Linked DNA regions of Homo sapiens. The protein of the gene in region 1 purifies or fractionates together with the protein of each later gene. This does not show direct contact. Each region holds a gene or a part of one and is shown on either strand. Other genes may lie near its edges.

What was found.
Region 2: the proteins of SLC22A15 (region 1) and SLC27A1 purify together in Homo sapiens (affinity purification with mass spectrometry; one large-scale study listed by BioGRID and IntAct). This does not show direct contact.
Region 3: the proteins of SLC22A15 (region 1) and C2CD2 purify together in Homo sapiens (affinity purification with mass spectrometry; one large-scale study listed by BioGRID and IntAct). This does not show direct contact.

What each region holds. Positions count from the first base shown.
Region 1 is NC_000001.11:116,031,955-116,035,606, forward strand, and holds part of SLC22A15 (solute carrier family 22 member 15), read left to right. Parts: exon of another isoform or gene 1-692; coding exon of another isoform or gene 693-693; exon of another isoform or gene 694-1,803; coding exon of another isoform or gene 1,804-1,804; exon of another isoform or gene 1,805-1,900; intron 1,901-3,232; coding exon 3,233-3,373; intron 3,374-3,652. UniProt on the Homo sapiens protein: Organic zwitterion/cation transporter with apparent specificity for amino acids and their derivatives. Has low affinity for its substrates and may regulate their flux across the plasma membrane at high substrate concentrations.
Region 2 is NC_000019.10:17,497,979-17,501,630, forward strand, and holds part of SLC27A1 (long-chain fatty acid transport protein 1), read left to right. Parts: intron 1-2,299; coding exon 2,300-2,426; intron 2,427-2,516; coding exon 2,517-2,654; intron 2,655-2,733; coding exon 2,734-2,898; intron 2,899-3,294; coding exon 3,295-3,441; intron 3,442-3,652. UniProt on the Homo sapiens protein: Mediates the import of long-chain fatty acids (LCFA) into the cell by facilitating their transport at the plasma membrane.
Region 3 is NC_000021.9:41,884,591-41,888,149, forward strand, and holds the end of C2CD2 (C2 domain-containing protein 2), read right to left. Parts: 3' UTR 522-3,559; downstream 1-521.

The DNA.
Region 1 (3,652 bases):
ATACTTACCTTTGGCACTGGCATCAAGCAGTTTGCTAGCACATTCTGATTGCGGTGCTCCATGCTGCATTTTCTGTGGCACTCCCACTCACTAACTCACTGAGGTGGGCTAAATATGATCCCTTGTACAGATGGGACCCCAGGAGTTTGAAGTGATGAACCCTAAGCCACATATGTAAATCAGTGATTGAACTGATGAGCACTTTCTGAACCTGATTTTTCTGGTTGTTTAGCTTATTCCCACCTACCTTTCAAAATGCTCTCAGCGTGAGTGTAAGTTGCATTCAGCGGTTCAAGATGGTTTCATTTAAAGAATGAAGTTGTAGAAAGAGGAGAAATGGATGGGTGCATACAATTTGTGGATTGCACATGTGTTTTGATATTGTACATACTGCTAATGTGCCATAAGTGTTATCTGGGCAAAATCATACCTACTAGCCTAAAGGACAGTTGTGCTGTGGCTTATATGTATTTGCCATGAAGCCTGCATGGAGCCCTACATTTCATGCAGGGATAAAGGAAAGTGATTTTATATGAAAGTGATCTTATGTATAAAGCTACAAAGAATAGTAGCTTTAGAATAAGAAGCTGCAAAGATATTTTTCTATATCATATACTCTTTTTCTACCCAAGCAGTGGCTGCCACCTGTATGGTTGGGGGCCATGTTAACCAACTGCTGCTTTCCCCCACAGAACCATCACAGCACTAGGAATATCACAGATGCATAATAAATGTTGAGGCTTGGAGGCATGGAGATTAAGAAAACCGTTGAAAGCCAAACCTGACAACACAACATAGGAGCTGCTAATTTGAGGTTCTACCCATTCAAAAGCAAATACTTACAAAGTATGTTCAGGTACTTAGGGCTCCATAAAACTTTACATTTGTGTATCACATAGACAGTCAGTCAACCTCTGCCTTGGAGGAACCACCTACTTGTTGCAGATTATTCACTATTTTTATTTTTTCCCCCATGTATATTAACTTCTGGGTTCTGGCCTTCAATGGATAAACAAACAAACAAACCCTAGACTTAGGGCCAGGGAAACTGTCCCTGTTCATTTTATTTCTTACACAGCCAAATAAACTTCTTCCCTGAGGCTGAGAATGTTAAAACATGTGATAATAGAGACAGTCACTCCACATATTGCCGTTCTTTTTGAAGATGCTATAAAATTCTAAAATCTTCTCTGTGGATCTGTCATTCAAGAAAGCCTTAACTGGGGATTCAAATTATACCTCTGTGTTAAACATCTGTTCCTTTAGTTATTTTCCACAATAGTGCCTTTTTAAATAATTATTTGATGCTCTAAATATACTGTTAAATATTATGCAAGCATTTTAGATTTTGTTTGGGGGACATAAAGAGGATTGAAATGATTTTAATAGCTGTAATTATGGATCCCAATGACCAACTCTATGACGAAGGCAACTTGCAGAGCAGAGGCCCAGCCCTGGGGACAATGGGCCTTCCATGCTTCATGCTCTCCCCGTTCTCTCTCACCACCAGCTGGGAACTAAATTCCACTATTGTCCTGAACTGGCTTGTCTATTCTTGCCCTGACTTGATACTGTCACAGCTTGATTTAAATAGGGGTGTCTCTGTGTGTGTGTGTGTGTGTGTGTGTGTGTGTATGTGTGTGTGTGTGGCTGGAATTTCTATTGTAAATGCAGAACAGACACAGAAAACCAACTGGGAAACAGCATTATGTAAATGCTGTTTCTGCAGGTGTAAGGGATTTTAAAAACGTTTTAGAAAACTGCATGGATTTAAATTTATTTTGCCTTCTGCTTTCATGCAAGATACCTGGGAGACAGTGAGAACAGACAATGCAGTGTCACCTTGCATCCTTACATGTGATGTCCTGGCTACAATCCTGCCCGTTGTCCTTGGTATATGAATAACACTTCATCTCAGTAAGAAATCATGCATAATACTTCTGGCTCATTTGCTAGGGAGGGCTGGACTACTAACCACTCCAGCTTGAGGGTCCCTTCTCTTTACATCTCTCTCTTCTTACATTACTACAGCCTGGGGTACTTGGCCCACTTCTGAGATTAAGCAGAGATGGAAATAAAACTTTCCCTTTCCTGACTGATCTCATTATAGCCACAGCTCATTAGAGTTTCTCTAAGGAAAACTAAAGGGAAGCAAATGAGAATGTCCCCTTAATAAACACTGATCAAACTGTGTTGCAAAAGCATAAAACCTGATGAACTTAACAAAGCTTCGGTGTTTTACTGCTTGTATAGAAATTTGTGGTTTACCAAACATATTCATATTTTTGTAAAGCCCAGTTTCAGGGTTTTATTTTTGTTCATTCTATTCTATTTTGTTTTGTTTTATTTTAATAATGCAGTTTCCTAGGCATAGAAGTTCCTACTACCACCATTACTGTGTTTGAGGAAGCCCTGATTTGGATCTTTAGGTTGGCACTTGGCTTCCTCAGCTCTTTAGTTCTTGGATTGTAGGAGAGAGGCTTGGTGCCTAGCACTATGCCTGCCACCCAAGAGGAGCTCCCTGTTTGTTTCAGGAACGGTGTACATAAATAAATTAATGGCTTTTTAAGTGACCCTTCCTCGGTTGTTCCTCCTAGAAGATCCTGCCTTTGCTGTGACCTTTAATTTTTCTTTCCTGTTCTGGGAGTCTGTATCATGTGCACCTGCTGAATGCAGGATGGGGTTAAAACCTGCAATGGGAAGTGTCTGGATCATTGGGGATTGGAGTGCCAGTCATTTTGGGCCTGCAGGTGACCCACTGAAGATCCAGTCACTTCTCAGCTCATGTTCTTAAGGCCATCTTCTGTTGGCTTTCTCCATGGGAGTTCTTTTCTAGAATCATTTCAATAATATTACAACTATCTATAACAAGTGTTCCATAAATTGTTGCCTTAAATAAAGAATAGGGTCATTGTGTTCTATTAATTGCAGAAATGCTTGCTGAAAGCACATGCAATGTCTTTCCTCTTTAAGGGGCTGGCCATCCATTTGATTTATATAACATATAGACATAGCTCAAATTATTTCCAAACCCCCATAATTTTTTTGTTTTTTCCTAGTGTTGAAATTTAGATTAAAATAGAAAAATTAGTAGGAGAGACAAGCTTATTGCTTACAGCAGATCAAGCAATTATATTGAACCAATATTTGAATCTCCTCTGGCAAATTCTTATGTACTTTTCTGTTGTCCTTCTTGTCTTTTACCTCCTGGTCCTTTGACTCCCAATTGCAGGTTTGTGTGCAGCTTGGTGTATTATGGCCTAACTCTGAGTGCGGGTGATCTAGGTGGAAGTATTTATGCCAACCTGGCCCTGTCTGGCCTCATAGAGATTCCATCTTACCCTCTCTGTATCTACTTGATTAACCAAAAATGGTGAGTAAGTGTGGATGAATATGAAGTGCACCGTAGAGAATGCACACATACACATATGCCCTCTGATACACATGCATATCTATATGGTGTTGTCTTTGTATGCAGTATCAGCTGATTGCTCTGTGGTGATTAGAGTTTCTTTCCATCTAAAAACAGTTAGAATTCATTTCTTAGTGCAGGATTTCTTGAGTTTCATGTTTACGAGTTTTTATATAGATTTCAATTCAATATTGAATATCGAAATCCAAGATAGTATTGAATATTACCATCAGAGGGTTT
Region 2 (3,652 bases), on another chromosome or scaffold:
CTCTTAATCATCTCCATTCTCCGCTTGCATGAATCTCCCTCTCCTTTCCCAAGCCCCTCCCATCCAAGGCCAAGAACAGACCGTAATAATGATCATAAAGCAAATGTCGGCTGGGCACAGTGGCTCACACCTGTAATCCTAACACTTTGGGAGGCTGAGGCAGGAGGATCACTTGAGCCCAGGAGTTTGAGACCAGCATAGCCAATGTAGTGAGACCCCCTTTTCTACAGAAAATAAAAAATTAGCCAGGCATGGTGGCAGGTGCCTGTAGTCAATGCTACTAAGGAGGCTGAGGCGGGAGGATCACGTGAGCTCACGAGATCGAGGCTGCAGTGAGCTATGATTACACCACTGGACTCCAGCCTGGGCAACAGAGTGAGACTCTGTGTCTCTAAAAAGGAAAAAAAAAAACAGCAAGTGCCATGGGGGCTGGGTCCTTAATGCCAAGAACAATGCTCCTTCCTCAGTGTGCTTGGTGTTGGATGGCCAGCCCCCAGGGCACTTTTGCTCACTGTAGCTCAGATTCTTGCATAGGAAACACACCAGGCCAGGCACGGTGGCTCACGCCTGTAGGGTCCAGCCCCACAGGGTCGGTGGGTTTTTCTCCCTGTGTGCGGAGACGAGAGATTGTAGAAATAAAGACACAAGACAAAGAGATGAAAGAAAAGACAGCTGGGCCCGGGGGACCACTACCACCAAGAGGCGGAGACCGGTAGAGGCCCCGAATGTCTGGCTGCACTGTTATTTACTGGATACAAAGCAAAAGGGGCAGGGTAAAGAGTGTGAGTCATCTCCAATGATAGGTAAGGTCACGTGGGTCATGCGTCCACTGGACAGGGGGCCCTTCCCTGCCTGGCAGCCGAGGCAGAGGCAGAGAGAGGGAGAGAGAGAGAAAGACAGCTTATGCCATTATTTCTGCATATCAGAGACTTTTAGTACTTTCACTAATTTTGCTACTGTTATCTAGAAGGCAGAGCCAGGTGTACAGGATGGAACATGAAGGCGGACTAGGAGCATGACCACTGAAGCACAGCATCACAGGGAGACGGTTAGGCCTCCGGATAACTGTGGGCAAGCCTGACTGATGTCAGGCCCTCCACAAGAGGTGGAGGAGTAGAGTCTTCTCTAAACTCCCCGGGGGAAAGGGAGACTCCCTTTCCCGGTCCACTAAGTAGCAGGTGTTTTTCCTTGACACTAAGGCTACCGCTAGACTAGACTTCCCAGACGCTGGCGTCACCGCTAGACCAAGGAACCCTCTGGTGGCCCTGTCCGGGCATAACAGAAGGCTCGCACTCTTGTCTTCTGGTCACTACTCACTGTGTCCCCTCAGCTCCTATCTCTCTATGGCCCGGTTTTTTCTAGGTTATGATTACAGAGCGAGGATTATTATAATACTGGAATAAAGAGTAATTGCTACAAACTGATGACTAATGATATTCATATATAATCATGTCTATGATCTAGATCTAGTATAACTCTTGTTGTTTTATATATTTTATTATACTGGAATGGCTCGTGCCCTCGGTCTCTTGCCTCGGCACCTGGGTAGCTTGCCACCCACACACGCCTGTAATCCCAGCACTTTGGGAGGCTGAGGTGGGTGGATCACTTGAGGTCACGAGTTCGAGACCAGTCTGGCCAACATGGCAAAACCCCATCTCTACTAAAAATACAAAAAAAAAAAAAATTGTTTGGGCTCAGTGGCATGCGCCTGTAATCCCAGACTCAGGAGGCTGAGGCATAAGAACCACTTGAACGTGGGAGGCAGAGGTTACAGTGAGCGAAGATTGCGCCACTGCATTCCAGCCTAGGCGACAGAGTAAGACTCTATAAAAAAAGGAAGGAAGGAAGGAAGGGAGGAACGGAGGAAGGGGGAAAAGCAGAAAGAAACACACCAGACAGGGTGTAGTGGCTCAAACATGTTGGAGAAGCATTTCTGTTCATAGAACCATGCCAAGCAGGGCGGCGGGCAGCAGGTGAAGCTCTGCAGTGTCTGACGTAGCTGTAGTGTCCACACAGAGGCATCTACTTCCTGCCAGCATGGAGGGTTTTGTGGATCAGGAAGTGGGTGCCAGCCAGAGGTCTTCTCTTGACTGAATGCAGGCTGGGAAGGTGGGAGGAGGGGCCCTGAGTTGGAGGCGACGCTTACTACCCTGCTTTTGCAGATCAGCCAAGGTCACAGAGCTTAGAATGACACTGGAGGTGCTAGGTCCAAGCCCCAGGGCAAGGCAGGCAAAGTGTTACTGAGAAGGACCCCGCATATCCCCGGCTCCTTCCAACTCAGTTCACCCCATTCCAGGTCGGCTCCTGTGGTTTCAACAGCCGCATCCTGCCCCACGTGTACCCCATCCGGCTGGTGAAGGTCAATGAGGACACAATGGAGCTGCTGCGGGATGCCCAGGGCCTCTGCATCCCCTGCCAGGCCGGTGAGCAGGGCCCCCGCATGGTCCCCACCCGGAGCAGGGGTCCCCACGCCCTGCCTGCCTAGCGCAGCCTGAACATGGCCTTCTCCCTAGGGGAGCCTGGCCTCCTTGTGGGTCAGATCAACCAACAGGACCCGCTGCGCCGCTTCGATGGCTATGTCAGCGAGAGCGCCACCAGCAAGAAGATCGCCCACAGCGTCTTCAGCAAGGGCGACAGCGCCTACCTCTCAGGTGCGCAGCCTGCTAGGCCCCGGTGACTGGCTGTGCGGATGGGGATCCTCCACCCATCTGCCCCTCTCCCCTCTGCCAGGTGACGTGCTAGTGATGGATGAGCTGGGCTACATGTACTTCCGGGACCGTAGCGGGGACACCTTCCGCTGGCGAGGGGAGAACGTCTCCACCACCGAGGTGGAGGGCGTGCTGAGCCGCCTGCTGGGCCAGACAGACGTGGCCGTCTATGGGGTGGCTGTTCCAGGCAAGCTGGGGTTGCAGGGGGTGGTCCTGAGGCATGGTCCTGAGGGAGCTCAGCCAAAAGGGGCTTAGAAGTACACATGCCTTTGGGCAGTGCACAACCTGGACAACTGCTCATGGCAGCCCAGGAGGAAGCACTGGATCTGGAGCCAGTTCACCTGGGTGATGTTGAGCCTCAGTTTTGTCATCCAGAAAATGGGATCATGAAAGCCCACCTGTCTTAGGGCTTCAATGAGCCAAGCAGGAGCTCCACAAAATGTGTGGCTGCTTCCATAAATGTCATCCCAGGTTGGGAGAGACTGGAGATTACAGACCAGGGGCTACTGCTTGACAGTGTATCTGGTCCTGCTGGTGGGGAGGATGAGAGGCGGGGTGTCCTCAGCTGAGCCTCTGCCTCCAGGAGTGGAGGGTAAGGCAGGGATGGCGGCCGTCGCAGACCCCCACAGCCTGCTGGACCCCAACGCGATATACCAGGAGCTGCAGAAGGTGCTGGCACCCTATGCCCGGCCCATCTTCCTGCGCCTCCTGCCCCAGGTGGACACCACAGGTGCGAGTCTCCCCCACTCCAATCTCTCTCTTCATCCATCAGTGTGTCTGTTGATTCATGTCTTGGTCCATTTTGTGTTGCTCTAAAAGAATACCTGGCCGGGGCCAGGCACGGTGGCTCACGCCTGTAATCCCAGCACTTTGGGAGGCCGAGGCGGGCGGATCACGAGGTGAGGAGATCGAGAGCATCCCGGCTAACACAGTGAAACCCT
Region 3 (3,559 bases), on another chromosome or scaffold:
ACCTTGTGGTGCCCAGGAAATGGAGCAGAAAACCTGGAACCCAGCTGGGAAGCATCGGGCTCCCTCTAAGGGTCTACACGGTGTCTAGCGAGCGGGCGGGACAGCTGAGAGGAGGGGTGGGCAGTGTGGGGACAGGAGGCTGGGCCTGTCCAGTAGCTTTCTCCAGGACACCAGCTCTCCACGTGCTCTGCTGTCTGGGCACCGCAGGGGGAATGAAGACTGAGGGAGACCACGGGAACTGATGACTAGAAAGAAGGCACGATGCCTGCATGGGGCCCGCAGGACACGTCTGTGACCCGACTCGACCGCCTCCCTCCCAGAACCACCGTGAGCCCCAGGCAAGTGCCGACGCTGTTCCACCTGTGGCTGAGCCAGGTACCTGTCCCCTCTGCATGCACCCGGGCCACCCACCGGGGTGGGGAATGGACAGTGAAGTCCAAGGATGACCTGATGAAAGGGGCGCTCAGAGAAGACCCTGGGACTTCCAGGACAGAACAGGACTCGGGAAAAACAACTCAGTGTAGTGTTCTGTGTGCACATTTATTTCTTTCAAAGATTGTTTGTGTTCCAGCCACATCTTCTCCAAAGGAACCCACCCAAGCCCGTGTGCAGGCTTGCTGCAGGGCTGTCTTCGGCGTTTAAAGTGCTACTGAGGAATACAATCATTGTCACGTAAGTTCATCACCGCACTCCAGCGTCAGGCCAAACCTTTCCGTGGACCTGGAAAACCTGCCACTTTCTTCTCTTTTTACAATGCAGTTTCGACATAACATTGGTAGAGTAAACAACAAACCACAAGCCTAAATGATGAATGGTGCGCTGCTGCCCAGCTGCTAACTGAGAGAACGAGGCAGTGTATTGTGTTTCGAATGCAAACGGTCATGGACCCAAGTTAACCTGAGTTTGCTCTGCAGGATTCCGCGGGGGCCTTGCCCTGTGCAGGCTGCTTTGGTCTTCGTGTCTAGGCCGGTTTGGGGCAGTGGGGAGAGGGCCTGGCAGCAGGGTTTACGCCAGCCCCGAGGTCTGTTTTCCGTCAGACAGAGATACGTGTCCTGCCTTCCACCATCCACCAATTTGTACTCTGAAGTTTCCAGATCAAGAGCCGTGAGATTACTACCCAGGAAACACCTGCCTTCGGTGGCCAGCAGTGTAAATTAATCTTTCCCTCTCTGCTCAAAGCAACTTTGCAACTCTCGTCTATAGAGGTGGCCAGTAAAACCCAAGCAAAAATCTAAACGGGCACCAGGTGGCCACTGAGTGGCGACTGGTCGAGTAGCAGTTGGTCATAAGGGATCAGGGCTGGTTTTGAACTCAGACTTGAAACTTGACGAAAATAAAGTGCTCTGTCAAAACTCTCACAGCAGGTTTTCAGCTGGAACAAGGAGATGGCTACTTTTTGTTATTGCTACAATAACACACGCGTGTGTGCAAACACACATAACACACACACACACTTAAAGCTCCATTTCACTCCTCCACAAAGAACAGAGGCACCTCCTTAAACAAAGCAAACGGGGAAGGGTTGCAAGCTCATTAAAACCAACATGAGCACCCAGTTCCAGAGATACAGACACAATTAATCTTAGTGTTCATGAGGAATTGTTTTTAAAACACAACTGGGCAAAACTTTCATCCAGACAAAAGCCAAAAACAAAAGCCCTCAAGCCACAAAAGCTTGTAGAAGAGGTGAGGCGATAAAGGTGATTTACACATCAGTATTTTTAGCATTTGGTGGATAATCTTAATTTATCTTTAACCTTCACAACATTTACTTTGTCATAAATACCCTACACCATGAAAAAACAAACCTGTATAAAACAGCTTGGAAAACAAACATTCACAGTATCAATACAGCCCATTTCTCACGGTGCTACCCTGAAGCTAGCCGACGTGTTGCCTTTGCCTTTGCTTCATAAACTCCCTCCCATGTTGGTGTTTTCTGTAACTTCAGAAAAGGCCATTGGATGGAGACAACGTGTGCGTGTCTACAGGAAGCAGAGCCCTAGACCTTGGTATTCAACAGTAAGCAGCGCTCATGGGATTCATCTGGAAATGGAATAGTTAAAACCTTTTTTTTTTTTTGAGAGCAAGAAGGCTTAATATAAAATCCTGGGGCCGGCCTGGTGGCTCATGCCTATAATCCCAGCACGCTGGGAGGCCAAGGTGGGTGGATCACCTGAGGTCAGGAGTTCGAGACCAGCCTGACCAACATGGTGAGACTCCATTTCTACTAAATAGAATTAGCCAGGTGTGGTGGCGCGTGCCTGTAATCCCAGCTACTTGGGAGGCTGAGGCAGGAGAATCGCTTGAACCAGGAGGTGGAGGTTGCAGTAAGCTGCCATTGCACTCCAGCCTGGGCAACAGAGTGAAACTCCATCTCGAAAAAAAAATTTTTTAAATAAAAAAAAACTTCTGATATCCTTGCACTTGAATAGAGTGCACCTGAATTCCAAAATCAAATAAAAAAGAACAATTAAAAACTTCTCATCAGTGTCTGAAATTCTGACACATAATATCCTCTTGGAATTCTTAAATATGTCTCAGCCTCTTTTTACCACATGGCAAAGAGCAGTAAAACTTCAAGTAAAACATTAAAGTGAACATCTGTCCCATCTGTCCCAAAAGACTAACAGTGATGCCTGACTTTGGGGACAGAAACTTGGTAGTATTCACATGTTTTGAAACTCCAGGTGCTTTTTTTACAATGATTAAAACTGGAATATAATTTTTAAAAACAAAGCAGGTTGGAAAAGTCATTTTAAAGTCACTTGATAATTCCTGGAACACCTAAGAAGTTTGTAATGCGCATTTTAAAGTGAAATTCCTAATGTCGTTTTCTAATCTCTCTCTCTAAAAAAGAAGAAAAAAAAATCCTATAATTTTGGTTTTTATACAGGTTTTTACTAAAAAAGAAAAAAATCCTATAATTTTGGTTTTCATATAGGTTTTTACTAAAAAAGAAAAAATCCTATAATTTTGGTTTTTATATAGGTTTTTACTAAAAAAGAAAAAAATCCTATAATTTTGGTTTTGATACCGGTTTTTACTAAAAAAGAAAAAATCCTATAATTTTGGTTTTTATATAGGTTTTTACTCACCAGTGGCTCTATTACCCCCGAAATATTTAATGTTTAAGGATTAACAAGAGGCTACGGAAGGAAGCTTGCCCATTTCCGTCTCCATGACAGAAGCCAAGCTTTCGTAACAGCCTTTTACATGTCTTTGGAGAAAAGTGAATCATATTAAACTGTCAAGAACACTTCACCCCAATGATGACTGCTCTTTGACCAGCATGTCTACTGGAAGTGGCACATTCAGAAGTGAGATCTGTGAATGAACTGAAATAGAAAGGCAACTGATGAGGAAAGCGACTGGAATGATATTAGGGATATTCAAATGGTGTGCCAGGTTTGTGATGTTTTCCACCAAAACAAACCCAAACAAGGGCACCCCAACCTGTGTCCAAGAGGACTGTTCACAGCAAAATTCTGAAGCGCTCATAGAAGGAATGTCCTGCGAGTTTGGCCCATTTGTTATTAAACTTCCATTCCTAAGACTG